Linked DNA regions of Homo sapiens. The protein of the gene in region 3 binds, or shares a complex with, the protein of the main gene of each other region. Each region holds a gene or a part of one and is shown on either strand. Other genes may lie near its edges. The genes, in order: TMEM126B, ACAD9, NDUFAF1 and COA1.

The links.
Region 1: NDUFAF1 (region 3) and TMEM126B share a complex: the UniProt entries of both Homo sapiens proteins name them as parts of the mitochondrial complex.
Region 2: NDUFAF1 (region 3) and ACAD9 share a complex: the UniProt entries of both Homo sapiens proteins name them as parts of the mitochondrial complex.
Region 4: NDUFAF1 (region 3) and COA1 share a complex: the UniProt entries of both Homo sapiens proteins name them as parts of the mitochondrial complex.

The regions. Positions count from the first base shown.
Region 1 is NC_000011.10:85,623,930-85,631,592, forward strand, and holds the start of TMEM126B (complex I assembly factor TMEM126B, mitochondrial), read left to right. Parts: upstream 1-4,663; 5' UTR 4,664-4,678; coding exon 4,679-4,759; intron 4,760-5,202; exon of another isoform or gene 5,203-5,312; coding exon of another isoform or gene 5,313-5,333; intron 5,334-7,215; exon of another isoform or gene 7,216-7,387; intron 7,388-7,663. Other genes in the region: DLG2 (disks large homolog 2), read right to left, coding at 2,670-2,688. UniProt on the Homo sapiens protein: As part of the MCIA complex, involved in the assembly of the mitochondrial complex I. Participates in constructing the membrane arm of complex I.
Region 2 is NC_000003.12:128,896,619-128,903,640, forward strand, and holds part of ACAD9 (complex I assembly factor ACAD9, mitochondrial), read left to right. Parts: intron 1-1,013; coding exon 1,014-1,092; intron 1,093-2,668; coding exon 2,669-2,843; intron 2,844-4,657; coding exon 4,658-4,731; intron 4,732-5,934; coding exon 5,935-6,010; exon of another isoform or gene 6,011-6,014; intron 6,015-7,022. UniProt on the Homo sapiens protein: As part of the MCIA complex, primarily participates in the assembly of the mitochondrial complex I and therefore plays a role in oxidative phosphorylation.
Region 3 is NC_000015.10:41,392,477-41,399,498, forward strand, and holds part of NDUFAF1 (complex I intermediate-associated protein 30, mitochondrial precursor), read right to left. Parts: intron 4,665-7,022; 5' UTR 4,584-4,664; coding exon 4,011-4,583; intron 2,569-4,010; coding exon 2,383-2,568; intron 1,883-2,382; exon of another isoform or gene 1,629-1,882; intron 1-1,628. UniProt on the Homo sapiens protein: As part of the MCIA complex, involved in the assembly of the mitochondrial complex I.
Region 4 is NC_000007.14:43,726,508-43,734,165, reverse strand, and holds the start of COA1 (cytochrome c oxidase assembly factor 1 homolog), read left to right. Parts: upstream 1-4,642; 5' UTR 4,643-4,737; exon of another isoform or gene 4,738-4,923; intron 4,924-7,658. UniProt on the Homo sapiens protein: Component of the MITRAC (mitochondrial translation regulation assembly intermediate of cytochrome c oxidase complex) complex, that regulates cytochrome c oxidase assembly.

The DNA.
Region 1 (7,663 bases), on a different chromosome or scaffold from region 3:
ATACAACTTATCCTGAATTGGTCCTAAATTTTCACAAATTAAAATATGTCCAAGATTGTCCCAAGGGCTCACCTGGGAGCAAATAAAGTTACTACTATAGATAAGAAAATCTTGAATGAAAAGCAACTGCTGAGGAAAAAAAACCTTCTATGAGGAAACAGAAGAGTCTTCTGTTGATAAAACTGAGATCTGTAAAAATGCGAAGAGACTAGAGTGAGAGAAGTAGAAAGTAATGTCATAAAGCAAACGAGCAGTTAATATGGGGTTTGAGGCACAGTAGTTTCAGCTTATCCAAGGGCAGTCCAGAATGGCACCTAGAAATGGGCTTAGTGAGATGTCACACCCATTCCCAATTCCCACCATGGTTGCATGGTATCAGTAAAAGAATCTCCTCTCTCTTTGACAAAAATATACTAACTAAATACCAAATGAAAATCCATCTTATGAAAATTTCATACTTTAATGAGAATATGTTCAACAATGAATAAACACTTGGCTCAGTGAGGATAGTTATTGTTTAGAATCACATTAAGTCTAGCTTTTTCGTCATGTCTACCACATGAAACAATGAAGAGAGAAAAAGACTCAAGGTGACAGAGGACAGTGATCCCTGCAGAATAAATCTAGGTTAAACTTAAAAATACTGTTCTTATATTATATAAACAGTAGAGATAGTAAGCATAGCCAATGAAAAATACAATATACACATAACTTGTTTGGCTAGTTGTCTATAATATTCAAGAATATGTATCATAATACTAGCAGTTTTAAGAGATTAAAAGCAAGATACATTGTTTCTCTAGATCAGTTTATAAGGAAAATATACAACATATACTCTGGTATCATAGAAATATAAACTGGTTTTTCTAATAAGAACTTGTTGATTCCTTTAAAAATTCAATCCATTAGTCAATTCATTATTGAAGAAGGAAAGAAGAAAGGGAAGGAGGGAGGCAAAGGAAGAGAGGAAGAAGGAAAGAAAGGAAATTCTTCTAAAGTATTATAATTTCACCAATGTATCAGCAATTTCTGTAACAGTTCTTTAAAGGGAAGAACTTTTAAGAAACTCGGTTTATGGGGTTTAGAAACATTAAGTTCTAAACTTTCTAACTAAACCTGCTTAGTTAAGTTATACCTAGAATATCAATTGACCTTCCTCCTCTTCCTTCCCACATACCTTTTTATCTCTTTCTCTGTCTCTCCTCCTTCCCATTCTCTCTTCCTTTCACTCTTTTCCTCTCTGTCTCTCTCTCTCTCACACACACACGTAATGTGTTTAATTCCATTATTAGTTCAAAATAAGGTAATCCAAAAGAAACTCTCTAGAGAAATGGTAGAAAGAATAAAAACACACATCAACTTAAATATGTCAAAGAGCCATATCATTTATTGGCTACATTCCCAAAACCATTCTTGTTCTAGATAAACCAATTGTGTCTGGTCTGGACAAGTGTGGCTCCAAAATCTCAGGCAGTTTACTTCTGTCAGTGGTATTATTAGAAACAGCAGGGGGAGGAAACAATCCCAATCTTAAATCCCAGTGTGCAAATATCACAGTTCTAGGTGTTCCAAAAGTTTTATATATCATTGTCCATCTCTACAAATATCAGCTTGGATAAGGCATCTCAGTGATTATAAGTTTCCTCAACATCCCTAACAAATCCACAGGTAGAAGAATTAAACACCATGCAGAGATAAGTTCCACTTTAACCTGCAATTCACCCAGAGCTTTAGTTTCAGATTGTAGCAACTCACATAACTGGACAACATTTGGATCTATATTAGTCCAGTATAGCAGAGTTCAAGGCTGTTCATATAAGTTTTGATTCAAAACTCTTGAGAAACTCTTTACAGTTGATCTCACCTTCCATATAATGTCAAAACAAAACAAAACAAAAACAGTCCCAAACTAGGATCCTTTGGAACAAAGTTAACCTGGGGTGCATCTAAGCTAAACTGAATCCCCAAGTTCAGAATATAATCAACTATGCTTCAGGAATTCACTAGATCTTGATCAATTCCAATAATAAAAGTTGTTGAGGAGGGAGGAAAAAAACAGGTGTTTGCCCCATTTGGGGAACTTGACAATCATGTTATTGGATAATGCATATATCTGGAAAAGCACAATAGTCACGAAAGTTGTGCTTTATCACAAAAGTGAAGATTTACACTAGAATAAATCCAAATAATAAGTCTATTTTTTAACCAAAAGATAAATTATAAAGCTGTAATTTTGTTCAGTGCAAATGAAATTACTTTGCTACCTTTCACAATTCTGTAATTAGTTTGATAAATATTAAACCCATGAGGAAGAGCTCCACTGCACAAGTTTCTTTTTTAAAGACTGCTTAAAAGTAACCTTCAACAAGCTAAGAAAACAAGCTAAAGGAGACTCCAAATCTGCGGTACTGAATCTATTCTTATTACCAACGGTGATATAAACAACCTGATTTATGAAATCATAAATATCTATCAATAAATACTATAGTCTTGCTTCCTTTTACTTTAGTAAAATAATATTACTGAATTATGTACCACTGAAACTATATTACAATAAATATTTCCCCCAAACTGAAGCAAAACTTTACTCTCAAATGGAATATAATTTAAATTACAAGTACCAGAACCAACAAAAGGGAGAAATATTATATAGCAACCTTATGGCCCACCTGTCTTCTTGACTGGCATTCTTGGGTCTTTCCACTGCCACAGGAGTCAATATCTCTTTTCAGGTCTCAGTTTGATCCAGCTGGATTGAGGCCAAGAGCCAGGTAACTGTTGCAAACCACTTCAGTGTTCAGTTTTGAAATCCAGGCTGAGTCTTCTATGTCAGACAAAGAAAATAATGATGTATTTTTTCCACAACTAAACTTTTTACACCGCCCACAGAGTTTACAGCAACGTAATTTTTTAGTTTTTCAAGTTTTTCAATTTTCAGAAAATATTTAGACTGTTTTTACAAACTGGGAAAATTATTGTAAACATGAAGAACGTTACTGAAATTCCTCTTCAGGCAGCAACATTTTTGGAAGTTCAATGACTAACTCAATTAAGGCACAAACCAAATTTAGACAGGTCTCATTACTTTATACATGGTCAAATTCAAAGATGATGATAAAGATACTCAAATCTGTAGAGAAAAATGTAACCCCACCTCCCCAAAAATACTTTTAAAAATCTCTTTGACTCCAGTCTCTAAAAAGATAGGTGAGTTTGAACAGTTTTCTGTGGCAGAACACACATTGAAAGGCCCCCTTATATTTACTGATCAGAAGTTCCGGATCTCACCCCCTCAGTAACTCAGAATCCAGCTTGCTGTCCCTTTCATTTTTTTCTTCTGTGCTCTCCAAGCCCCCAGGCTTGATCCTTAATGCCCCTCTGATTCTGATCCTCCCATGTATTAACCGAGAGGATTGAAAAAAAAGGAAAGCAATCCCTTGGCATGGAGACATTAAAGTGACAGTGCTACTCAATGGGCACTTGATGCAGGATGAGTTGGCGAAGCAGATTTCTTCACACTGGAGTCATTCACATCATGCCATCTCTTCGCATTCAAGCAGCTCCCTATCCGGCGAGGAAAAACACTGAGACTTCGAGAGAAGCCAAACCTTCCCCCAAAGGTGTTTTCAGAGACGCCGTAGTAGTATTAGACATGTAAGCATAAGCTATGTAAACGGTCCGCGATTTCCTAAATGAGAAAGTGCAGCTGCTTGGCTTTCACATCCACCTTTTCTCTCAATCTCTCTTCAAACTACCCACCTTCCTTTTGCAGAAAAGACAAGACATTTCTTTGCCACCGCTGGCCACCCCTGCCCAAGCCCCGTTCTTTTAGGGAAGAGCACTGAAATGTCCTGCACCCTCCACGCGATGAAGTGTTTCCTCAGGCAGGAGCAACAGCAGCACTAGAAATTATATAACTCTCGAATTTGGCTTCTGTAAGACATGGAGACTGGAGGGTCGGGGGTTGCCGGTCTGGGAGATACTGCTGGGCATTTAACGTGCACAAAACAGCGCCAGGCCTTGCAGTGCCCCCCACCCCGAGACACGGCTGACAAGTGGGTCTTCTCGCGGGGGTAGTGGGCAAATTTCTCTCCGGTCTCTTTCCAAGCGGGGCTAAAGGATGCAAATTGAGGGGACTACAGACTGGGGAGAGGAGTCAGACGGCTGAGAGGAGAGGAGGCTAGTCGGGGCTGCTCTGACGGCGCTGGGCGGCTGGTCCGGGGTTTGGAGGAGGAGGTGCCCGAGAAACAGAGCTTTAACACCACACAGGCCAGGGCAAAGGGGCGAGTTCCCTCAAGGACTGAAAGGGGCAGGCAGCTAGTTCCCAGCTGCCCTGAGGAGAGGCAGGAGCGCAGTAACATTACAACATTCGGGCCGCCCCATCTTTCCCGCAGGACGCGAAGAGATCAGGGAGCTAAGCTGATAAATAGTCAGGGAAGGAAATACTCGGCTGGCGAGGGGGGCAGGCCCACAGGCGCCTGGACCTCCTCTAAGCGAATAAGTGGCCGTAATTTCTAGACGCCGCGCCCAATCACAGTCAGGATGGAGGGCGCGGCTTTTGACTGAGTGGGGGCGGGCCCGGGCTGCAATCGAGAGGCGTTGAGCCGTAAATCAGCACCACTTCCCGCCCAGGGCGTTCTGGGTCCCCGCCCACCGGCAAGTCACATGAGCCACCAAAATGGTGGTGTTCGGGTATGAGGCTGGGACTAAGCCAAGGGATTCAGGTGTGGTGCCGGTGGGAACTGAGGAAGCGCCCAAGGTAGGCGGAAATCCGAAGTGGTATGGGGGGTGATTTCTGCACCTTCAAAGTGTTGGCAGACTCTTCTAAGATGATACCTTTAAAGGAGATTTGAAAAGTTAAAACAGCTCCCAAGTCCATGCAAGGAGCAGTCGATTAAGTCTCCAGTTGCTGTGGAAAGAGGCGGAGAGAACGTAGATGACCTAAATTCTAGTCCTCATTATCTGCAGTTTGTTTTCTCTTGTCTCCAGGCCTTTGCACAGGCTTTTTCTTCAACTTGGAGTATTTCCCTGCTTCTATCCGTCCCAACTCCCCTGCCAAACTGTTCTCTTTCGGTTATTGATTTAAATGTCACTTCTTCCGGGAAGCCTTCCCACGCTTCCTCTGGCTAGATTGTTTGCTTTTTCTTAGGTTGTTGGGTTTTTCGTTTATGTCACTCTCTCATTCTGTGTTTAAATTGCCAGCTTTTTTGTTCTGAACTCCCACTGCGTTGTGGATTCCTGAGGATGGGATGACTGTATCTTGATTACCCGGAGGTCTGGCATATACCACGTGCTCCCTAAATTATGAGCGAATGTTGAATAAAATTCTAAAGGTGAAATTTATTATTAGGTGAAAAATTTATTATTAGGTAAAATAATACACATGAAAGCACTACAAAACCGTTAGATGATTTGCAAACTATAAACCTACATAAATGCACTCTTACTGGTATAAGCGTGGTGACTAGTTGAGTGGCCTTAAGGGGGAAGGGGTGTAATGAAAGCACTGGAGTCTTTGACAGTGCCTTGCAAAGCTTAAGCACTCAAATATTTCCTGTGTTCTTTCCAGTATTTCAGTATTTGCTGTCCTGTAATCATAATCCTGGGTGTCTGTTTTCCCTATAGAGACTTTAGGGTGTAGACTAGGTAGGAGATTAGTAGAAGATATTGCCTGGAAGTTTGTTTTGTTTTTTGTTTTTGGTGGAAGGTGGAGGATTTCAATGAATTGGATGAGAGCAAAACAAAAATTTATCTATGGTTTATGGTTACTCATGTTATTGACGTCTGCCAAGACAGCAGATGTCTTAGTACAATAGATGGGTTAGGTATAGAATCTCCCTTAGATGTTACTATCCCTTATACTTTCCATTTGGGTGTCAGGGAGAGGGAAAAGATGTAAGTCTAGTCACTGAAAAATTGTAATTTGTAAAATATTTTACCTTTTTTTCCCCCTGCCCTCTCCAGAAATGTTACAGAAAAAGATTGAGTACATTTCTGCCATGATGCAGAGAAAGAAACTGGTCCATTATTACTCATTGTGTAACACCATAAGAAGGTTCAAAGGAGCTCATACCTTCTGTATGTTGATGCCAGGAACTGTGTATAATGAACTGGCCTTCTATAGTTAGGATTGGTACATACCGCTCATTCAGCAAATGAGTATTACAGTGATATTCAACATGTGTCCATTGACTACAGCATCAGAAGCACTAAGTGCTATTAAAATGCAGATTCTAGGCCTCATCCTACTCCTGCTGAATCCAGGTATCTCAGGAGGGAATTCATGAGACTGCATTTCAAATAAATACCCCATGTGATTCTTGTGCATGCTGAAGGTTGAGAACCACTGATTTATTAAGTATCTTGTGTGTTCATTATGCTTTATCCCCTCTAATCCTCTTGTCTAGGACTCCTTAAATTTGAGATTTAGTATTTCCCTTTAATATAAACATTAAAATTGAGATTAGTGTAAATTTGTAAAGAGACTATTTAGCTAATCTGGAGGAAAAAGAGTAAAAAGCACTGAATTTAGCAGCAATAGACCTTCCACTTGGCTGCTGTAGTAGGTAAACATTTGCAACCACGTGTTTGGATTTAACAAATGTTATTAAGACTTTTCACAGAGACTCTAGAGTCTTGCCCAGAGCAAAACATTCAGAAACGATCCTCTCTGAGAGTGCAGGGTTTGTTTTTTTGTTGTTGTTGTTTTGTTTTGTTTTTTAACCTGTCTAGTTTCTGTTAAGATGCTACTGGCCAGGTCTTCATGGTCCCTTGACATTGGCAGCTGTCTGTTCATCACACTTGGGACACAAGAACCTTCCGACCAAGGAGCCCAGTGCCATGGGTCTCTGGGGCCGGGCACGGTGGCTCACGCCTTTAATCCCAGCACTTTGGGAGGCTGAGGCAGGTGGATCACCTGAGGTCAGGAGTTCGAGACCAGCCTGGCTATCATAGTGCAATCCTGCCTCTACTAAAAATACAAAAATTAGCCGGGTGTGGTGGCAGGTATGGGTCTCTGCTATACCACATGACCATTTCTAGCAAAGGCTCTGCTTCCACCACAGGTGGTAATAGGGAACTGGATATATAATTTATGTACTCCAAAGTAGTAGCCACAATCCACTGCCTGTTCCCTTCCTGGAGCAGTGTCCCTCTTTCTGATTTTTCTCTCTCACTATTCTCCAAGGCAATCCCTGCTCTCTCCTACCTCTCTAGGAAATGAAACACGATTTCCAAAATGAACTTAATCTTTCATGAGAAACTGAGGATAGAGATGTCAATAAGCAGCCACTGTTTCCACCTCCCCACCTGAAGAGCTAGGAGGACAACTACAAAGAGCCTGACTGCCTTCTCGGAATGAGGAGAGAGGAAAACAGCAACAGTATCAGTATGTTAGCCTTCTACACTAAATCTCAAGCAAGCCAACCTTTCAGACCTTCAGTTTGCTCATATGTATAGAAATAATCATTATACTACCAATTTCTCAAGTTAGTGTGTAAATCAGAAAGCCAATGTCTGTATTGTAGGATGTTTAGCAAGAAAATAAAAAATAATAACAAAAAGCCAATGTCTAACAGATAATAAGAGCTCAGTAAATGTTGATTGAATTACTAACAAAGTATGTGAAAGCAGACGACACAGTACCTGGCACACTACTAAACTG
Region 2 (7,022 bases), on a different chromosome or scaffold from region 3:
TGAGTAGCTGACTTTTCCTTCTTTCCAAAATCTTGCAAAGAATCAACTCAGCAACTGTTCTTGCCATTCCTCTTATCTTGACCTTATTTCTCTGTCCCAGTGAGACTTGCAAGTGAGATACCACGCTTGACAGCACTTATTAAATAAATTTTTGTGGTTTACAACACACCTTGACATACAATATAGTAATAACGTTCCGGCTTCAAAGCACCTTTCAGAATATATAGCGTGGGTGGTACTGCTCCCACTTACACATTAGGAGCTGAGGTTCAGTGAGGCTGTGTGATCTGCTGGATGGAGCAGGGCTGCGGCAGCACTCGGGACTCTGATGATAAGTCCATCACCTGGACCATCCTCCATCCTGCTTCACTTTGCATGAGAACCTGGGAACAGTCATCCTTCCTGGGGTGCCCAGAACTCATCCTCACAGGACCTCAGATGAGCCCATTGCAAGCACCCATTTCCATGTTTAAACCTAAGCCCAAGTTGTTTTCACTGCCGCTTTTTTACGTGATGTATTGAAGCAGAGGTCGGCTAAATCCAGCCTCCTGCCTGTTTTTTATAAATAAGTTTTGTTTGTTTGTTTTTGAGACAGGGTCTTGCTGCGTCACCCAGGCTGGAGTGCAGTGGCTCAATCTCATCTCACTGCAACCTCCGCCTTCAAGCGATTCTTCTGCCTCAGCCTCCCGAGTAGCTGGGACTACAGGCATGCCCCACCACACCCAGCTAATTTTTGTATTTTTAGTAGAGACGGGGTTTCACCATGTTGGCCAGATCTCAATCTCTTGACCTCGTGAACCACCTGCCTCAGCCTCATGTTCTATTAATAGCAGCAGAGTTGAGGAGGTGAGACAGACATCCTGCAGCTTGGAAAGCTGAATATGTTATCTGACCCTTCATTTTAAAAGTTTGCTGACCTCTTACAAGTACTAAAACCTCCATTTTCAGGCCCTCAAAAGCATTCATATTTATTCCCAGTATTCTCCCTTGACCACATCTTTCTGCATCTGCAGTGGGAGCGATGCAGCCTCAATCCGGAGCAGAGCCACACTAAGTGAAGACAAGAAGCACTACATCCTCAATGGCTCCAAGGTAGGGTTCCTTCCCCATGGCCACATTAGGGTCTCAGTCACAACCTTCACTGCCACTGAGTGAGCACTCTCCACACACCAGGGATTGTACCTGCTGCTGTAGCACCGACTACCTTCTTGAGCTGCTTTTATGTGTTTGTTTTTAATTTTTTTTAGTTTTTTTTATTTGCGATGGAGTCTCTGTCACCCAGGCTGGAGTGCAGTGGTGTAATCTCAGCTCACTGAAACTTCTGCCTCCCAGGTTTCCAATGATTCTCCTGCCTTAGCCTCCTGGGTAGCTGGGATTAGAGGTGCGTGTCACCACTCCTGGCTAATTTTTGTATTTTCAGTAGAGATGGAGTTTCACCATGTTGTCCAGTCAGGTCTTGAACTCCTGACCTCAAGTGATCTGCCCACCTCGGCCTCCCAAAGTGCTGAGTTTACAGGCAATGAGCCACTGTGCCCGGCTTGTAAACCCAAAAAATCTTTAAATTTTTTGTTACACAAAGTTTCAGACATATTCTGTGTGCCTGGCTGGCCCTAACTCCGGCAGTCACCTGCTTATGGCCACTGTGCCTCTTCCAGCAGCATCGCCACCTCCAGATCGCATGGTAACAATCTCAGCATGCCTCTCTAAAAGACAGGAGTTTTTTTTGTTTGTTTTTGTTTTTTAATAAACACAAAGCCGTAATACCCTTATCACATTTTAAAAATTGATAATTTCTCTTTTCTTTTGAGACAGGGTCCCGCTCTGTCACCCAGGCTGGAGTGCAGTGGCACGATCTTGGCTCACTGCAGCCTCAACTTCCTGGGCTCAGGTGATTCTCCTACCTCAACCTCCCAAGCAGCTGGGAGTACAGGCACACAGCTAACTCTTTGTATTTTTTTTTTGGTAGAGATGGGTTTTCACCGTGTTGCCCAGGTTGGTCTCAAACTCCGGGGCTCAAGTGGTCTGCCCACCTCGGCCTCCCAAAGTGCTGGGATTACAGGCGTGAGCCACTGTGCCCAGCTAATAATTTCTTACTTCTATCAGCATTCAAATATCCCTGATTGCCTCATACCTTTTTTTGGTTTAACTGTTTGCTTGAATTAAGATCCACACAAGTCCCATCTGTTGCTGTTTGTTAAGGAGTCTGTTTCTGCCTCTGTCTCCCTCTGTTTCCTTTCCTCCTCCTCACCACCCTCCCGCCTTTTTTCATTTCTTTGTAGAATTAACAAATAAATGTTGTGTGTATTTACATCTACAACATGATGTTTTTATATATGTATACCTTAAGAAATGATTAAACCCTTTCTTTCTTGAAGAAATGCAGTTGTCTGGCGGTGGAGCCTGAGCTGTCTGACAACTTTGGGTGTTCTTTCCCCCGCCCCCGCCTCCACCTGGCCATCCATGTCCCTTGGGAAAATCCTTGCTCTGGGGAAAGTGGGCTGAGCCCTGTCCTCTATTCACTCATGCTTGGTTGGCTTCTGCAGAGCCAAGGACCCTGCATGTCTGGCCTGAGGTCTGACTGGCAGCTGGAGCTTGATGGACAAAGACAGAGCTGAGGTGGGTCACATAGGGGTTTGGTTTTCTCCAAAGTCCATCTTTCTGTCCTCAGGTCTGGATTACTAATGGAGGACTGGCCAATATTTTTACTGTGTTTGCAAAGACTGAGGTCGTTGATTCTGATGGATCAGTGAAAGACAAAATCACAGCATTCATAGTAGAAAGAGACTTTGGTGGAGTCACTAATGGGAAACCCGAAGATAAATTAGGCATTCGGGGCTCCAACAGTAAGTAGCTCCTGTGCGCGCGTGCGCGTGTGTGTGTGTAAGGGGGAGACTGGCCTTTGACGGTGTGTGTGTGTGTGTGTGTGTGTGTGTGTGTGTGTGTGTAAGGGGGAGACTGGCCCTTGACTCTGTCCAAATAGCAAGATAAAATGAGATTTAAACACTTTCAGTTTTTGTTAAGCATTTTAAAAAGATCAAATTAAGAATGCCACTTGGGCTTTGTCTTTGTTCCTGCAGCTGAGTGCTGCTCACTTGAAGGCCTGCTGGTCATCCCCTGCTGTAGCTGCCCTAGCAGACACACCACCTTAGAGCTCAGCTTACAGTCCCCAGCCTTTAGTTGTCTCAGTCTGCAGTGCCTGGCAGCCTGCTTCAGGCTGTGAGTTGGGTTCAGGTCCATCTGGGTTCAGGTCCATCTGGAGGCTTGTTCTTAGAGCAGATCATAAGCACCTAAGGGGCCAAGCCAAGCCATATAAGTACTATTTTTGCCGTGGGAGACATAGTCTCCCTCTGTCACCCAGCCTGGAATGCAGTGCTGTGATCTCAGCTCACTGCAACCTCTGCCTCCTGGGTTCGAGTGATTCTCCTGTCTCAGCCTCCCAAGTAATTGGGACTACAGGCGTGCACCACCACACCTGGCTAATTTTTGTATTTTTTGTAGAGATGGGGTTTCAACATGTTGCCCAGACTTGTCTTGAACTCCTGAGCTCAGGCAGTCTACCTGCCTCAGCCTCCCAAAGTGCTAGGATTACACGTGTGAGTTACCATACCTGGCCACTTTTTTTTGGTTTGTTTTTTTTGAGACGGAGTCTCGCTCTGTCGCCCAGGCTGGAGTGCAGTGGCACTATCTTGGCTCACTGCAAGCTCCGCCTCCCGGGTTCACGCCATTCTCCTGCCTCAGCCTCCCGAATAGCTGGGACTACAGCTGCCTGCCACCACGTCCGGCTAATTTTTTCTATTTTTTAGTGGAGATGGGGTTTCACCATGTTAGCCAGGATGGCCTCGATCTCCTGACCTCGTGATCCGCTCACCTCGGCCTCCCAAAGTGCGTGAGCCACCGCACCCGGCCTTTTTTTTTTTTTTTTTAAATAGAGATGAGGTCTTGCTATGTTGTCCTGGCTGGTCTCGAACTCCTGGGTTCAAGTGATCTTCCTGCCTCTGCCTCCCAAAATGCTGGGATTATAGGCATGAGCCACCATACCCGACTGACCCTAAAACACATTTAAGGTCTCTGTTCATGTTGGGTCAGCTCTTTGTATTGGCCACAGGAAGTCACATGGTCATACCTAGCAGGCAGGGAAAGGGAGGGAGGTCCATCCCTCCTCACAGTGGGAGAGTGCTACAGTTAGATTGCAGGGGTGTGATTGTGTTAGAGTTAAGAATTGAGACCAGTGGTCCCAGTCTACCCTAAGGCTTCAGGAAATGCTGTTCTTTCCCTCACTTTGCTTGTTCTGGCTCTTTATATGCCTGGTTCTTTTCATTCTTAAACTTCTGCTAAATGTCACCTTAGAAAAGTCTGACATAGTCCTTAATAAAAATATTATTATCCACCCCCTTGCCAACCTCCATTTCTCTTTATCGTGATGCCCTATTTATTTCATCCATAGCACTGATCACAATATTACATTGTTTTGTTTATAGCTTTTGTCTCCCAAATCAAAGTATGAGCCTCCACAAAGATAGGAACTTTGTCTTTCTATACTGTCCTACCAAACATTGGATGGATGGATGGATGGATGGATGGATGAATTGCCTGCTTGCAGGTCAGATGCAGAGTGGTTTGCATTGTCAGATGATATCTTAAATTTCATGTGTTTCAGCTTGTGAAGTCCATTTTGAAAACACCAAGATACCTGTGGAAAACATCCTTGGAGAGGTCGGAGATGGGTTTAAGGTGAGTTGCCAGCCACAGCCCCTTGTACCAGGTAGTGTCATGAGTGCAGTTTGTCGCCCCCAGCTTTTGCCCTATCCCTGCTCGTAGCAGAGTAGCCTGTGCATGGCAGGTGACTTTGCATGGTTATCTGTTGGGAAATTGGCAAAATGGACACTGGAAAATTGGCTGGCTCCTAGAAGAAGTGTATGGTAAGGATTAGGAATTTCCCTTCACCTCTGAGGCCCTATTCGCCTCGAGCGGAGGCTAAGATTCCCTTCTGCAGTGGGTATGAGAAAGCAGCCTGTGGGCTCTGGTGAATCTCAAGCTCTGTGTACCACAACCCTGGTCTGCATCGCTGCCCTACTCTTTTCTTTTTGGACTAAGACTTATTTTTATCAAGAGATGATTCATATGACAAAGGACTCACCATTTTAAAATATTATTTCAGTGGTTTTTAGTATATTCACTATGTTGTTCAAATATCTCACACAGAACATTTCCTCACCCCAAAAAGAAATGTTGTACCATCCAGTATGACCCTTACCCCATCCCTTGGCTGCTACTCTTTTACTTTATGTCCCTATGGATTTGCCTGTTTGGAACATTTCATAAAAATGCAGTCATATACAAGATCCAGTCTTTGGTGACAGGCTTCTCTCACATTGCGTGATGTTTTCAAGGTTCATCTCTCTCATAGCATGAATGAGTAATTCATTCCTTTTATGGCTGAATTCTCTTCTGTTGAGTGGAGATACCACATTTTGTTCATCCATTCACCAGCTGATGGACATTGGGGTTGTTACCGCTTTTGGCTGCTATCAGTAATGCTACTTATGAACATTCATGTCAAGTTTTAATGTGGAAATAACGTTTTCAGGTATTTTGATTTATGCCTAAAAGTAGAATTTCTGTTTGGCCCAAGTTGGTCTTGAACTCCTGGGCTCAAGCGATCCTCTTGCCTTGGCCTTCCAAAATGCTGGTACTACAGGTGGGAGCCACCATGCCCAGCTCTGGCATGGTCCTTTGGAATAACGTTCAGTGGTCTTGTGTGTGGGGATGTTGGTAGAGCTGCAACAGTGACTGAACCACCTTGTTCTGAGGCATTAGGATGGTGCTTTCTCCCAGCTTGAGGGAAGGCAAGCTGATCCACCTGGCCTGGTTTCGTTGCGGCCTCCTCCCTCTGCCTCCTTCAGGGCCCCTGGGCTCTCCCTGTTCTCCCTGCAGGTGGCCATGAACATCCTCAACAGCGGCCGGTTCAGCATGGGCAGCGTCGTGGCTGGGCTGCTCAAGAGATTGATTGGTAGGTAAGTTAGGGACAAGGCCCTTTGTGCCCCACCCCCTGCTGCCCCGGCTCCAACCCTGGAGGCTCTGCCATTCCCCCGGCCCCTTCCAGGCCAGTGCTGAACCAGGCTACCAGCCTGAGCTCAGTCCCTGGGCTTTTGTGGAGACCAGAGGGTCTCCTCAGCCTGCCCCTGAGGTTTGTTGTCTTCCGCATTCCTCTGTTTCACCTCCACCCGGGTGATGCTGACTGGGGGACAGGCTTTCTGTCTGGGGTGGGGATGGGGATTGGGGAATGGGCTGTCTGTCTGGAGTGAGAGGTTGCCACTGACCAGTAGGAGCAGAGCTGCTTGGTGAGCACACACCAAGAACCAGGCTTCCAGGATACACGGCCTCTGGTTCCCAAGGTCCGTGCCTCCTGGGTGACTCTGCATGGTGGGTGGGGAGTAGGATCGGGTTTGGAACCCAGGTCCCTGGGCCCCTGGATCTTACCTTTGTTCTATTCTGTCAGAATACCCCAAACCTCCATTTTCCTTTGCCAGTGAACTTAGAACAGCCCTGTAACCATCCTGGTTGTGGTGGAAGCATTTGCGGGGAAATGGGGGTACCCGGGGCAGCACACCCCTAAGTGCTTTATGAAGCTCCTCTTTGGTGCCAGGCTCTGGGCCTGTTTTGGCTTCCCTCCATTTTAGAGATGAGAAGACAGAGACTCAGAGAGGGCAAGCGATTTGTTCCAGACTGTGCTCCTGGACCCAAAATGAAAGCTGTCAGGCTCCAGGCTCAGGGCTCTTCTTACTCAGGCACAAGGCCTCTGGGGAGCTCCTCTGCTGGGGCTCTGAGTGGGGCTCGGCCCTCTACACCTCCTGAGTGCACCACACCTGGGAGAGCCTGTGGAGGACATGGCTATGGCGGGGCGGGGGTGCTTCTGCCTGGGAGAGGCGCCATGTCACTCTTGGGCCCTTAGAGCTCAGCACTTTGTCACAGCCACACGCCTGGAAGCCCCAGCCTGAGTATTCAAGCCAGGCGGCCCCACC
Region 3 (7,022 bases):
GTCAAGGGAGGGACCAGGTGAAGTTAACTGAACCATGGGTGTGGTTTCCCCCATACTGTTCTAGTGACAGTGAGTTCTCACAAGATCTGATGGTTTTATAAGGAGATTACCCCTTCATTCGGCTCTCATTCTCTTTCCTGCCACCATGTGAAGGAGGATGTGTTTACTTCCCCTTCTGCCATGATTTTATAAGTTACCTAAGGCCTCCCCAGCCCTGCAGAACTGTGAGTCAATTAAACCTCTTTCCTTTATTAATTACCTAGTCTCAGGTATTTCTTCATAGCAGCAGCACGAGAACAGACTAATACAGCTTACATGCTTAGGAGGTACATTTACATGCTTACAAGCATGTAAATGATGTCATCTGAACTATGCTTCAGAAAGATAACTCTGGCTGCTGTGGAGCCAGGATTTTAGTGGGGCAAGAAGACAAACAGGGAAATCAATAATGAAGCTGCTGCAATAATCCAAACACCTGGACCAGGGTGGGAGTAGAAGAGATGGCTAGAAATGGTCAGCTGCTGAGTGTATTTTGGAAGCAGAGGTGACAGGACTCGCTAATAGACTGGATGTGGGGCAAAGGAGAAGAATTCAGGATGACCCTCAAGTATATGACATGAGCAAAATGGGGACTTTCTTGTTGAGTTTTTTTTTTTTTTTTTTTTTGAGACGGAGTCTTGCTCTGTTGCCCAGGCTGGAGTGCAGTGGCACGGTCTCAGCTTACTGCAACCTCCACCTCCCAAGTTCAAGCAATCCTCCTGCCTCAGCCCCCCTAGTAGCTGGGATTACAGGCACACACCACCATGCCCGGCTAATTTTTTTTTTTTTTTTTTTTTTTTTGAGACGAAGTCTCCCGCCCAGCCTGGAGTGCAGTGGCACGATCTGCAAGCTCTGCCTCCCGGGTTCACGCCATTCTCCTGCCTCAGCCTCCTGAGTAGCTGGGACTACAGGCACCTGCCACCAAGCCCGGCTAATTTTTTTTGTATTTTTTTAGTAGAGACGGGGTTTCACTGTGTTAGCCAGAATGGTCTCCATCATCTCCTGACCTCGTGATCCACCCGCCTCAGCCTCCCAAAGTGCTGGGATTACAGGCGTAAGCCACCGCGGCCGGCCTTTTTTTTTTTGAGATGGAGTCTCACTCTGTCGCCAGGCTGGAGAGCAGTGGCCCATCTCGGCTCACTGCCACCTCTGCCTCCCAGGTTCAAGCGATTCTCCTGCCTCAGCCTTCTGAGTAGCTGGGACGACGCCACCACACCCAACTAATTTTTTTATTTTTAGTAGAGACAGAGTTTCACCATGTTGGCCAGGATGGTCTCGATCTCTTGACCTCGTGATCTGCCCACCTCGGCCTCCCAAAGTGCTGGGATTACAGGCATGAGCCACCGCGCCTGGCCTCTAATTCTTGTATTTTTAGTAGAGATGGGGTTTTGCCATGTTAGCCAGGCTGGTCTCAAACTCCTGATCTCAGGTGATTTACCCACCTTGGCCTCCCAAAGTGCTGGGATTACAGACATGAGCCACCACGCCTGGCCTAGGACACTACTTTTTTTTTTTTTTTTTTTTTTTTTTGAGACAAAGTTTGGCTCTTGTTGCCCAGGCTGGAGTGCAATGACACGATCTCGGCTCACCGAAACCTCCGCCTCCTGGGTTCAAGCAATTATCCTGCCTTAGCCTCCCGAGTAGCTGGGATTACAGGCATGCGCCACCACGCCCAGCTAATTTTGTATTTTTTTTAGTAGAGACAACAGGGTTTCTCCATGTTGGTCAGGCTGGTGTCGAACTCCCAACCTCAAGTGATCCGTCCGCCTTGGCCTCCCAAAGTGCTGGGATTACAGGTGTGAGCCACCACGCAGGCCTAGGACACCAACTTTAGCAGAGTTGCCTGGAAGACATGAAATGGCAGAAACTTCTAAAAAACAAACAAACCCCATCTATTTGGACACAGAGCAGAGATGTGCCTGTGACTTAGCATGGACCTGGCCACATCCATATCAAAAATATTCACTAGTTAGTATGTTAACATTTATATTAATGAAACAAAATTCATTTATGTCTCTTAACCTTTCTTCTACCCACCCACCCCCACCTTCCAAGAAAGATTAGTAACAAAAAAGAAACTACAATGTAACAATCATCTCCAAGACTTTTTTTTTTTTTTTTTTTTTTTTTTGAGACAGAGTCTCATCTCACTCTGTTGCCCAGGCTGGAGTACAATGGCACGATCAGAGACTAGGTTTCACCATGTTGGCCAACCTGGTCTCGAACTCCTGACCTCAGGTGATCCACCCACCTCGGCCTCCCAAATTGCTGGGATTATAGGCGTGAGCCACCTCACCCAGCCAAGACCTCATTTTTATAAACAATGAAGATTTATGCTGTTACCTTGACCTCCTGCCAGTAGGGTCCCCCGCGGGTGAACATGAAGTAACTATACATCTGATTCGTCCTCTGGAAGAAATCTGTGTCCTCCTTGATATTCACCATCCAAGGCCGACCATCCCCACGTACACGGAGATACAGAGTATTGAACTGGGACCAATCGTAAGACATCTTCCTCTCAAAAGCACCCTAAGATATTGAAAGTAAAGTTCATTGTACCTCATTCTCCATTATTAGCAAAATGTGAGTCATCACCAAGTCAGCATCATCAACAGGATGCACTAACCATTTTTCTGACTTTCTGCCCCATAAGAAGGCACATAAACCCAGTGATTATTATTTTAGCACAAAATACTGACATAGTTATATGTTTCTAAGGTAATGTTCAACACACAACTGGCCCAGGACAGTGTTTACATGGGGTAGGCACTCACCTGTGTTCAATGAATGGAAATGAATGTATTTCCTTTACCTGGTCGTATGGAGCAATGACTTTTTCTTTTCTTTTCTTTTCTTTTCTTTTTTTTTTTTTGAGACGGAGTCTTGCTCTGTCACCCAGGCTGGAGTGCAGTGGTGCAATCTCAGCTCACTGCAAGCTCTGCCTCCTGGGTTCACACCATTCTCCTGCCTCAGCCTCCCGAATAGCTGGTACTATAGGCGCCCAAAACCACACCCGGCTAATTTTTTTGTATTTTTAGTAGAGACGGGGTTTCACCGTGTTAGCCAGGATGGTCTCGATCTCCTGACCTGGTGATCCGCCCACCTTGGCCACCCAAAGTGTGGGGATTACAGGCATGAGCCACTGCGCCCGGCCTTTTTTTTTTTTTTTTTTTTTTGAGACAAAGTTTCGCTCTTGTTGCCCAGACTGGAGTGCAATGGCACGATCTCAGCTCACTGCAACCTCTGCCTCCAGAGTTCAAGCAATTCTCCTGCCTCAGCCTCCCAAGTACCTGGAATTACAGGCATGCACCACCATGTCCAGCACTCTGGGAGGCCAAGGGTGGGGTGGATCACCTGAGGTCAGGAGTTCAAGACCAGCCTGGCCAACATGGTGAAACCCTGTCTCTACTAAAAATACAAAAATTAGCTGGGCGTGGTGGTGTGCACCAGTAGTCCCAGCTACTCAGGAGGCTGAGGCAGGAGAATCGCTTGAACCTGGAGGGCGGAAGTTGCAGTGAGCCGAGATCACGCCACTGCACTCTAGCCTGGGCGACAGAGCAAGACTCCGTTTCAAAAAAAAAAAAAGAAAGCCACAGGCTAACCCTACATCCACTCTACAAAACCCCTGGTCATTACAGAGGTTGTGGTCTTTTTTAGAGGAGATGAAAATCTCTCCAAAAATCTTTCAAATGTCTAACCTCTCAGGATTCCTGAAACATAACAATGCTCGTTCCTGGCCCAAAGCAATGCGCAGAAACAAGTTAACTCCTCCTCCTCAGAAACCACTTCCCCCTTGTGCTTCCACTTCACACTTGTGCCAATAGTTACTTATCCCCAGACACAGGTGAGGTGCCAAATATAACATGCCAGGTGTTTTCATTTACAGAAACAAAAGCTATCTTCTATAGTTTATGCTACAATGAAGTTCACCCCTGTTTACTAGAAAACGATGGCTCCTGGGCCTCACCTACCCTTGGAATCCTGGATATCATTGCACAGTACCCACTTCGGGTAGACTCCCCGTCCTGAGGCGCCTCAGAGCTCAGAGTTCCATATAGCAGTGCACTTTGGTTATTCTTGCCCATTTTCAAAAACACTTCACTTCTGCCTCCAATCGTCTTATCAGAAGTCACTGTCCACTTATCCAAATCTTCTTTCCCCCGGAATTGCCAGACAACCTTGGCTTGTTCCAGCAAGACCTCATGCAGAGGGTGGCCTTCCGGTCCTCTCCAATGATCCACAATTTCATCCTTCAAAAGCCTAAAATGGTATATTGCTTCATCTCTAATTGCTTTATCGAAACTAACATCAGGCTTCTCCTCAGAAGAAGTTATATCCAAAGCAACTTCTTTCTGGTGATCTCCTTGCAAATCCCCTTCAGTCTTCCTCTGTGAGGAGGCTTTGCCAGGAGAAGCCACTGGTTTCTGAAGACTACTGGAATACTCTGCAAAGCGAATACCCAAAAATGGATACAAGGCAGAAGTTGGCTTAGAGAATTTTCTGAGAAAATAAGTACCACGCAGCAATTTGTGAACCAAAGCCATGGTACAAAAAAATCAAAATGTAAGTTTCTTCCTGGGCTAGCAAGGGCCACCAAGAAGCTTCAGCAAATAGCCCAATTCTACCTATAACAGAAGAGACATTGAAGAATTATCAGCATAGCAATGAATGCATCACAATTTCAAATTCAACAGAAATCAGGTATTTTGAAGTTTGTTAACTTATTTGTTTACTATTATTATTATTATTATTTGAGACAAGGTCTTGCTCTGTGGCCCAGGCTGGGTACAGTGGCACAATCACAGCTCACTGTAGCCTCTACTTTCTGGGCTCAAATGATCCTCCCATCTCAGCCACCCAAGTAGCTGGGATTACAAGCACACACCACCATGCCCAGCTAATTTTTAAATTTTTTGTAGAAATGGATCTCCCTGGCCAGGCACGGTCCCAGCACTTTGGGAGGCTGAGGTGGGTGGATCACGAGGTCAAGAGATAGAGACTGGGCCGGGCGCGGTGGCTGACGCCTGTAATCCCAGCACTTGGGGAGGCCGAGGCGGGTGGATCACGAGGTCAGGAAATCGAGACCATCCTGGCTAACACGGTGAAACCCCGTCTCTACTAAAAATACAAAAAATTAGCCGGGTGTGGTGGCGGGCGCCTGTAGTCCCAGCTACTGGGGAGGCTGAAGCAGGAGAATAGCGTCAACCCAGGAGGCAGAGCTTGCAGTGAGCGGAGATCCCGCCACTACACTCCAGCCTGGGCGACAGAGCGAGACTCTGTCTCGGGAAAAAAAAAAAAAAAAAAATTGAGACCATCCTGGCCAACATGGTGAAACCCCGTCTCTACTAAAAATACAAAACTTAGCTGGGTGTGGTGGTGCGCACTTGTGGTCCCAGCTACTAAGGAGGCTGAGGCAAAAGAATTCCTTGAACCTGGGAGGAGGAGGCTGCAGTGAGCCAAGATCGTGCCACTGCACTCCAGCCTGGCAACAGAGCGAGACTCTGTCTCAAAAAAAAAAAAAAAAAAAAACAGAAAGAAAGAAAAAGAAATAGATCTCCCTGTGTTGCCCATGATGGTTTTGAACTCCTAGGATCCAGTGATTCTCCCCTCGGCTTCCCAAAGTGCTGGGCTGTAGGAATGATGCACTGTCCCCGGCCTTTTTTTTTTCTTTTCTTTTTATAAGAGACTGGGTCAGGCCAGGTGTGGTAGCTCACGCCTGTAATCTCAACACTTTGGGAGGCCGAGGCGGATGGATCACCTGAGGTAAGGAGTTCGAGACCAGCCTTGACAACATGGTGAAACCCCATCTCTACTAAAAATAATCCAGGCGTGGTGGCAGACGCCTGTAATCCCAGCTACTAGGGAGCCTTAAGCAGGAGAATCACTTGAACCCAGGAGGCAGGGATTGCAGTGAGCCGAGATCACGCCACTGCACTCCAGCCTGGACAAGAGCAAAATTCCATGTGAAAAAAAAAAAAAAAGAGACAGGGTCTCTTGCTCTGTCACCCAGGCTGCAGCGCCGTGGCAAGATCGATAACTCATTGTAGCCTTGAACTCCTGGGCCCTGGACTGAAATGATTCTCCCACCTCAGCCTCCAAGGTAGCTGAGACTACAGGTGCACACCACCATGCCCAGCTAATTTTTTTAAAAAATGTTGGCCGGGTGCCGTGCATCACACCTGTAATCCCAGCACTTTGGGAGTCCAAGGTGGACGGATCACTTGAGGTCAGGAGTTCAAGACCAGCCTGGCCAAAATGGTAAAACCCCATCTCTACTAAAAATACAGAAATTAGTTGGTCATGTTGGAGAGCGCCTGTAATCCCAGCTACTGGGGAGGCTGAGGCAGGAGAATCACTTGAACCCAGGAGGCGGAGGTTGCAAGTGAGCCGAGATTGCACCACTGCACTCCAGCCTGGGTGACAAAAGTGAAATTCCATCTCAAAAAAAATAAAAAAACCAAAAATTGTAGCCCGCCACAGTGGCTCACACCTGTAATCCCAGCACTCTGGGAGTCTTAGGCAGGCAAATGACTTGTCGTCAGGAGTTGGAGACCAGCCTGCCCAACATGGTAAAACCCCGTCTCCATTAAAAATACAAAAATTGGCCTGGCACGGTGGCTCATGCCTGTAATCCCAACACTTCGGGAGGCCAGGGCAGGCGGATCACCTAGGACAGGAGTTCAAGACCAGCCTAACCAACATGGTGAAACCCCTACAGAAAATACAAACAATTAGCCAGGTGTGGTGGCCCATGCCTGTAATCCCAGCTACTTGGGAGGCCTAGGCATAAGAATCGCTTGAACCCAGGAGGCAGACGTTGCAGTGAGCCGAGATCGTGCCATTGCACTCCAGCCTGGGCGACAGAGTGACTCCAACTAAAAAAAAAAAAAAATTAGCTGGGCATGGTGGTGGGCACCTGTAATCCCAGCTACTCGGGAGGCTGAGGCAGGAGAATCGCTTGAACCTGGGAGGCAGAGGCTGCA
Region 4 (7,658 bases), on a different chromosome or scaffold from region 3:
CCATTACTTCTTTGACCCATGAGTCAAAATGTATACTTAATTTCAAAAGAAGTGTGTTACTTAATTTCAAAATATTTGTGTTTTCCAGATATCTGTTACTAATTTATAATTATGGTAAGACAAAAAACTTTATACAATTTCAATGTATTTAAGTTTATCAATGTTTATGAACTGGCATAAAAATATTCTACACACTTAAAAGGTGCATTTAGCTATTTATGGAGTGTTCTATAAATATTAAACAGGTCAAGTTGGTTAATAGTGTTGCTCCAGTTTTTTATGCACTTACTGATTTTTTGGTCTAGTTTTTCTATTAATTGCTGAGAGATGAATGTTAAAATCTCCACTACAATTTTCAATTTTTCTTTTCTTTTTTCTTCTTTTTTTTAGATGGAGTCTCACTCTGTCACCCAGGCTGGAGTGCAGTGCTGCAATCTCGGCTCACTGCAACCTCTACCTCCTGGGTTCAAGCAATTCTCCTGCCTCAGCCTCCTGAGTAGCTGGGATTACAGGTGCACGCCATCATGCCAGGCCGATTTTTGTATTTTTAGAAGAGACAGGGTTTCACCCTGTTGGTCAGGCTGGTCTTGAACTCCTGACCTCGCGATCCGTCCACCTTGGCCTCTCAAAGTGCTGGGACTACAGGTGTGAACCACCGCACCCAGCCTACAATTTCCAATTTTTTGAATTGTCCTGTCAGTCTTTGCTTCACATTTATTGAAGCTCTGCTATTAGTTCCAAACAATTTTTTTTATTTTGAGACGGAGTCTCGCTCTGTTGCCCAGGCTGGAGTGCAGTGGCACGATCTCGGCTCACTGCAACCTCTGCCTCCCAGGTTCAAGCGATTCTACTGCCTCAGCCTCCTGAGTAGATGGGATTACAGATGCGCACCACGACGCCTGGCCAATTTTTGTATTTTTAGTAGAGATGGGGTTTCACTATGTTGGTCACACTGGTCTCGAACTCCTGACCTCGTGATCCGCCTGCCTTAGCCTCCCACAGTGCTGGGATTACAGGCGTGAGCCACTGCGCCTGGCCAGATTCATACAAATTTAAGACTGTTATATCTTCTTGATGATCTAACCCAATTATTATAAAATGTCCTTTATTTTTTGCAATCAGCATATTTGAACAGCTACAATTTCCTATAACAAAATTATAGGAGGTGCACATTATTTCCTATAACAAACATGTAGAGCATGTGCTTGGAGTACATGTAAAAGCAAACACAAAAGCAAAAAACAAAAAACATGTAGAGCAAGCATTAACTTTACATTAAACAGGACATATTGTAAGAGATAAATAACTTTTTCAGGGTTAAAAATCAGGATATCACAGGTGAATTTCTTGTAAACAAACTAGGCAGGACTGAATTTCATGCTGGTAGTAAGATAAGCAAGAAAGGACATTCATACCAACCTAGCTAATGTTAATTTTCTCAGTGTCTTTGAGGTAAATACTGTCTAACTTTTACTTATTTTTATGACAGGACATTATGGCACGCTCAATGCTTTGTTTTCTCAAAGCTCTTATGCCAAAATTTTCTTCTTTCTCTCAATAGGTGGATAGTTCCTTAACATGATAAAAGATGTCTACTTCAGTCCTTAAAACCAGCATCATGCTTAATGGGAAAATTCTAAAGATATCTCATTAAAGATAGGAATAAGACATAAAAGTCTACTGTCATTATTATTATTAAATATTTTACTGGAGATACTAGCCAAAACAATTAGATATGAGAAAGTAGAGGTATAAAACTTGGAAAGAAGTAGGTAAAACTATTTCAATGATAAGATTGCAATCTTAGAAATTCTACCAGAATGAACTCCAAACAATAAAGCAACTTAGTAAGGCAGTGGATCACAATATTAATATGCAGGAAATGATACTTTCATGTATACATACAACTACGATGTGTAGTAACCTCATTCAGATTTGATAGTTATAGGATCCTGCTGCTCTTGAGTGAATCTCAAAGCAGCCATTTAACCACTTAACAGTAGCCCTCATACAGCATTATAGTCAGCCCCTCCTCTCTTCACCTCCTACCCCTTCCCTGGCTCCTTAGTTTAAAAGTATCAAAACAGACCCTTTCTTTAAATATATAGAAAAAGAGAGGTAGAATGTGTATTTTGATGGGTAATTTTGGCTATAAGAAACAGAATCCCTGACTTAAGGTGAGTTAATAATAACTAAAATTTATTAAGCACTTAAAATACTTACAATATGACCAGCACTATTTTAACCCATTTAATCTTTATGGCATCTCTATCAGAAAACAGTAAGGATCCCAGCACTCTGGGAGGCCAAGGTGGGTGGATCACTGAGGTCAGGAGTTCAAGAGAAGCCTGGCCAACATGGTGAAACCCCTTCTCTACTAAAAATACAAAAATTAGCCAGGCGTGGCAGTGCATGCCTGTAGTTACAGCTACTTGGGAGGCTGAAGCAGGAGAATTGCTTGAACCCGGGAGGCAGAGGTTGCAGTGAGCTGAGATCATGCCACTGCATTCCTGCCTGGGCGACAGAGTGAGACTCAGTCTCAGAAAAACAGAAAACAAAAACAATAAGGAAACTTATTAGACATTCCTACAAGGCATTCAGATACAGGGTGAGCTCCAGGTTTGGAATGATGTCACCAAGGACATTGTTTTATAACTTGTTCAGTTGTCCTCAGCATTGGTCCATCAGTTTTATTCCTTGTGATGGGCAAGATGGCTACTAATGACAGTGTGGGATAGATGTTTCGACGTCAAGAGGACAGTATATCAGAAACTTTCTCCTGAGCATGAAATAGAGGTCCTTTCCTTCAGTCAGATTGCGCCAACCTGGGTCATATACTCGTTCCTTGATTAGCAACTATTTCCAAAAAAATTCTGTGTGAAGACTGGTTTAATCAGTATCATTTTGATTCTGGGAACAGGGCAGCTATCTGAATAAAATAAGGATTTTGGTACAAAGGAGTTAGAGGAAAATGAATATTGGATAGGTAACATTATTCACTATAGAGTTTTGTTTTTAATGTAAAATTTAGACGACAAAAAAATTCTGTGTGATGACTGGTTTAATCAGTATCATTTTGATTCTGGGAACAGGGCAGCTATCTGAATAAAATAAGGATTTTGGTACAAAGGAGTTAGAGGAAAATGAATATTGGATAGGTAACATTATTCACTATAGAGTTTTGTTTTTAATGTAAAATTTAGACGAAAACTTTAGCAGATTTAAGTCCAGTGATAGAAATGTTAAGTTCTGAGTTTTCAAGCAAATGGTCAGAAAAGCCTATTTAATGTTTTATTACTTACAAAGTAAACATATTTCTCTTTCTGGTACAGAACGGGAGCTAATTGATCTCGGGTTCATTTTCATGAACGTTGTATGAAATGCACATATACCAAACCTCATAAGCTTTTTATTAGTTGATTTATTCTTTGAAATATTAAGCTTGGTGTAAGGTATTATAACCTCAATCTCTTTGAAAATGTAATAAGTCAATAATCAATGTTGCATCAATGAATATTACTCAGTGGATGCCTATTTTATTTCTTCTTTTTCTCTAAGAACCATTTAAATAGTCCTTATGGCCGAGCACTTCACAATCTGATTAGTTTCTATTAATTCTTTGGAAAAGAAACATTCTGGGAAGTCAGAATTCAGCGGTAGGTTGCTTTGATAATGTGCTCATTTAGCTAGTGGATTCCAGAGTGATAGAATGTATGTTTGGCAACCTAATTGTTGTGGAGGAAGAAAAGAACTTCTGTTAGAAGTTTTTAAAAAAGTTTAAAAATTGTTTTTACCTCATCAAAAGTTTGATGTCTTGTGAGTTTTATAGCATGCATAATATATTAATGCCATACATGACACATGTAAATATATATATATTTTTTCTGATAGGGATGTGTGAGCAAGAGTTTAAAGAAGAATGCCCCAGTCTAAAGTTAATTAGTCTTGGAGTGATGGCTTCGCAGAGGAAAGATACTGGATTTCAAGCTTGACATTAAGGTGATAATAGTGGTGACTATGGAATAATCAATATAAAAATAATAACAGCTAACAGTTACTGAGCGCCTACAAACTGCCAGACACTACTCTAAGTGCTTCACATCCTCATAACAAATTTATGAGGTAAATGCTATTATTATCCACCAGCCTTCTGAAATTTTCTTACCCCGTTACTCCCTGGTGTTAACTGGGTACTTAATTTGTCGAATAAAATAAAATTTAGTGCTGCCAAATTTGTCAGCTGAACGGGGCGGCAGGAATTTCAGTGCTAGAGTGGGGGGCCAGACGGCCCGGGGCTTCGTGTCCTTGGAGGCCAGCGGAAGCGCCGCATACCTGTGAGGAGCAACGTGAGCCGGTGGCTTATATTTCCTGGGCTAGTGCTACTGGACTGAATGCATTTGCAATAACCGGACGCAGAAAAAAAAAAAAAAAGCGGGGACCAGGGGAGGCGAAACCCTTCCCGGCGCGAGTCCGAGCGTCTGAGAAGCAGAAGCCACACGTCCCGGCGACCTAAGTTCTGGATCAGCCGGCCGGAGGACCCGTGTTAGCATTTACAATCCGAGGTGAGCTGAAGCCTCCGGTTGTCCCGGTTCGACGCTCTAGCCCTGCGAGCAGCCGACGCCGGAAGTCTCTACTGCTCCCCGCTGGCGCGCAGGACCGCGGGCATTTACCCGTGCTTTCCCAAGCCTGGAAGAACTCGTCATGCTCTTTGTAGCGTGGTGCTTCTGTTGCTCACAGGTTAGTCTCCCGCGGTATAAGAGTCTCCGTCTTCCCCCCAGCAAGAAGCGTTTGTTCCTGCAATTCGGGGGGCCGCCTTTGCGCGCGGGGTGCGCTGCTTCTTGGAGAGTTCCCTCACGGGTCACATCGCGGAGGTTCGCGCCGGCGCCGGGTCGCGGCCTCCCTGCGCAGCTTCTTTGGCACCTGGTAACCTTCAGTGGCTCCGTCCGCTCGGAGTTAGGAGGCTGTGTCGAGCTAACCTTGACCTTGTCCTGCAGTTTTTGCTGACCATCCCCAACAGCACACTGTAAAGAGTTAGGGTCCTCTCGAAGAGTTGGGACTGGGCACTTTTGTTGGTAGTGCTAAATTTCAACACCCTGAGGAGTACGCTGCCCAAATTATTGTAGGAAAGAATTACCTGGTTTAGTGGTTATAATACTTTTTGTCCCCACCACACTTGAATAACAGAAAAACCCTCCCAACAGGGGCTGACTGCAAAAGTGATTTTCTGTGTAGGGGACATTGGATGTATTTATGTATATATCAGTGCCTATCAGTCTGTATGTGTGTTTGGGGGTGGATGCTGTGTAATTTAAAAAAATCTATGGAGATTCTGATAATTTGATAACCTGTTTCTCCGGTCTTCCCCTGATTCCTCCCCATTCTCCCCGGAGGGCTATTGCTTTATTTCTGAGGTGGCTCACGTTTGGATAGAAGTAGCAACTCTCCGCTTACACCTGCACGTTTAAAACGCATATCAGATTGTGTTATTTCTGTCCTCAGAATCTTCCTGGCCTTCCCGTTGCTTTCAGGATAATACACATTTCTTAGCCTAACTTCAAGGGCCTACAGGGTCTTGATTCTGCTGAGTTTTTCAGTCTTTGCTACTTTCATGGAAAACACACCTGCAGGTACACTCATATTATGCTCCCACCATGCCAGTCTACGGTAATTTAATAACTTTAGATATGGCAAAGTTTTATATGGTTTACTCAAGTTTTAATTTTTGTTCTAGCATTTAGCCAAAATCGATTGAATTCATAATATTGCTAGGCACTGTTTTAAAAACGGGATAAAATGAAAACAAAACAAAACACAAAACAAAAGTCTTCAGTCCTTTAAAAAAATAAAACAGCTTCCTGACACATAGTTCACCTACCGTAGAGTTCACCATTTAAAACGTAGCGGTGCCTCACGCCTGTAATCCCAGCACTTTGGGAGGCCGAGGCGGGTGGATCACGAGGTCAGGAGATCAAGACCGTCCTGGCTAACACGGTGAAACCCCGTCTCCACTAAAAATACAAAAAATTAGCCGGGCGTGGTGGCGGGAGCCTGTAGTCCCAGCTACTTGGGAGGCTGAGGCAGGAGGATGGTGTGAACCCGGGAGGTGGAGCTTGCAGTGAGCCGAGATTGCGCCACTGCACTCCAGCCTGGGCGAGAGAGCTAGACTCCATCTCAAAAAAAAAAAAAAAGAAAGAAAACCTAAAAGTAATTAGTACATTAGTACATTCACAAAGTTGTACAACCATCATCATAAAATATGCTGTAATCTTCTTCACCTTCATTAGTTGGTTTAATTTTCTATTTCAGACAGACTCCAATAAGTTATTCTTGTATTCTTTTGTTCATGTTTAATATGCTGCATTCAGTTTGTGAGAGCCATATTGGAACAATTGAACATTTTCATCACTCCAAAAGGAAACCCTGTACTTATTCAGCAGGCTCACCTGACTTCCCCATCCCCACTCCCCATTCTAAGCCCTAAGCAACTATGAATTGACTGACTGTATATTTGACTATTCTGGATTATTCATGTGAGTGAAATCATACAGCATGTGGTCTTTTTCAACTGGCTTCTTTTACTTAACATTCATGTTCATCTGTGTTGTATTTAATAGCATGTGTCAGTACTTTTTTTTATTGCTGGTTAATCTTTTATGGGTATTACCACGATTTATTTTCCATTAGTTAGTGGACGTTTGGATTGTTTCCACCTTTTGGCCATTATGTGTAATGCTGCTGTGAACATTCACCTACAAGTTTTTGTGTGGACATCATGTTTTCATTTCTCTTGCGTATGTGCCTAGGAGTGAAATGGCTGGGTCATATGGTAGCTCTGTTTAACATTTTAAGAAATGGTCAGACTGTTTTCCAAAGCATCAGTGTGCATCTTTTTAACATTCGCACCAGTAGTGTATTAGGGTTTTGATTTCTCACTCCTTGCCAACACTTGTCATTATCTGTCTTTCTGATTCTAGCCATTCCAGTGGGTGTGAAGTGTGTGTCATTGTGTTTTCATTCTTTTTCGTTGACATGTAATAATTGTACATATTTAGGGACTACAGAGTGATATTTTGATAAATGTATACAATGTGTAGTGATCAAATCAGGTAATTAGTATGTCCACCACCTGAAACGTTCATCTTTTCTTTGTGTTGCGACCATTAAAAATCTCCTAACTTTTTGAAAATATTATGGTTTCAAATCGTATTTCCCTGATGGCTAATGATGTTGAGCATCTTTTCAAGTGCTTATTGCCCATTTATTTATCTTCTTTGGAGAAATGTGTACTCAGATCCTCTGCCCATTTTTAAATTAGGTTCTTTTTTGTAATTGAGTTGCAAGAGTTCTTTATATATTCTAGATACAAGTCATTTATCAGATATGTGATAGTCTTTTAGATTATGCTACCGTTCTTTTAAATGAAAAGCACATGAGATTAATTTTTTGTAGCCCTGGAGACCTCCTTATGGGTATGTGGCTGTGGTTTAGAGAGTGATGGTTTTCCAACAACTACGTGGGAGGCCAGGCCCAGGAAAAATGCTGTGAAAGAACCCGTGAGGAGCATTTTAAGACTTGAAAAATGAAGCAAGGAAAAACTTTATAATTTGCCATTCCGTATGGAGTTTTGTCTTTATTGATTTTTAGGAGTTCTTTGTGTA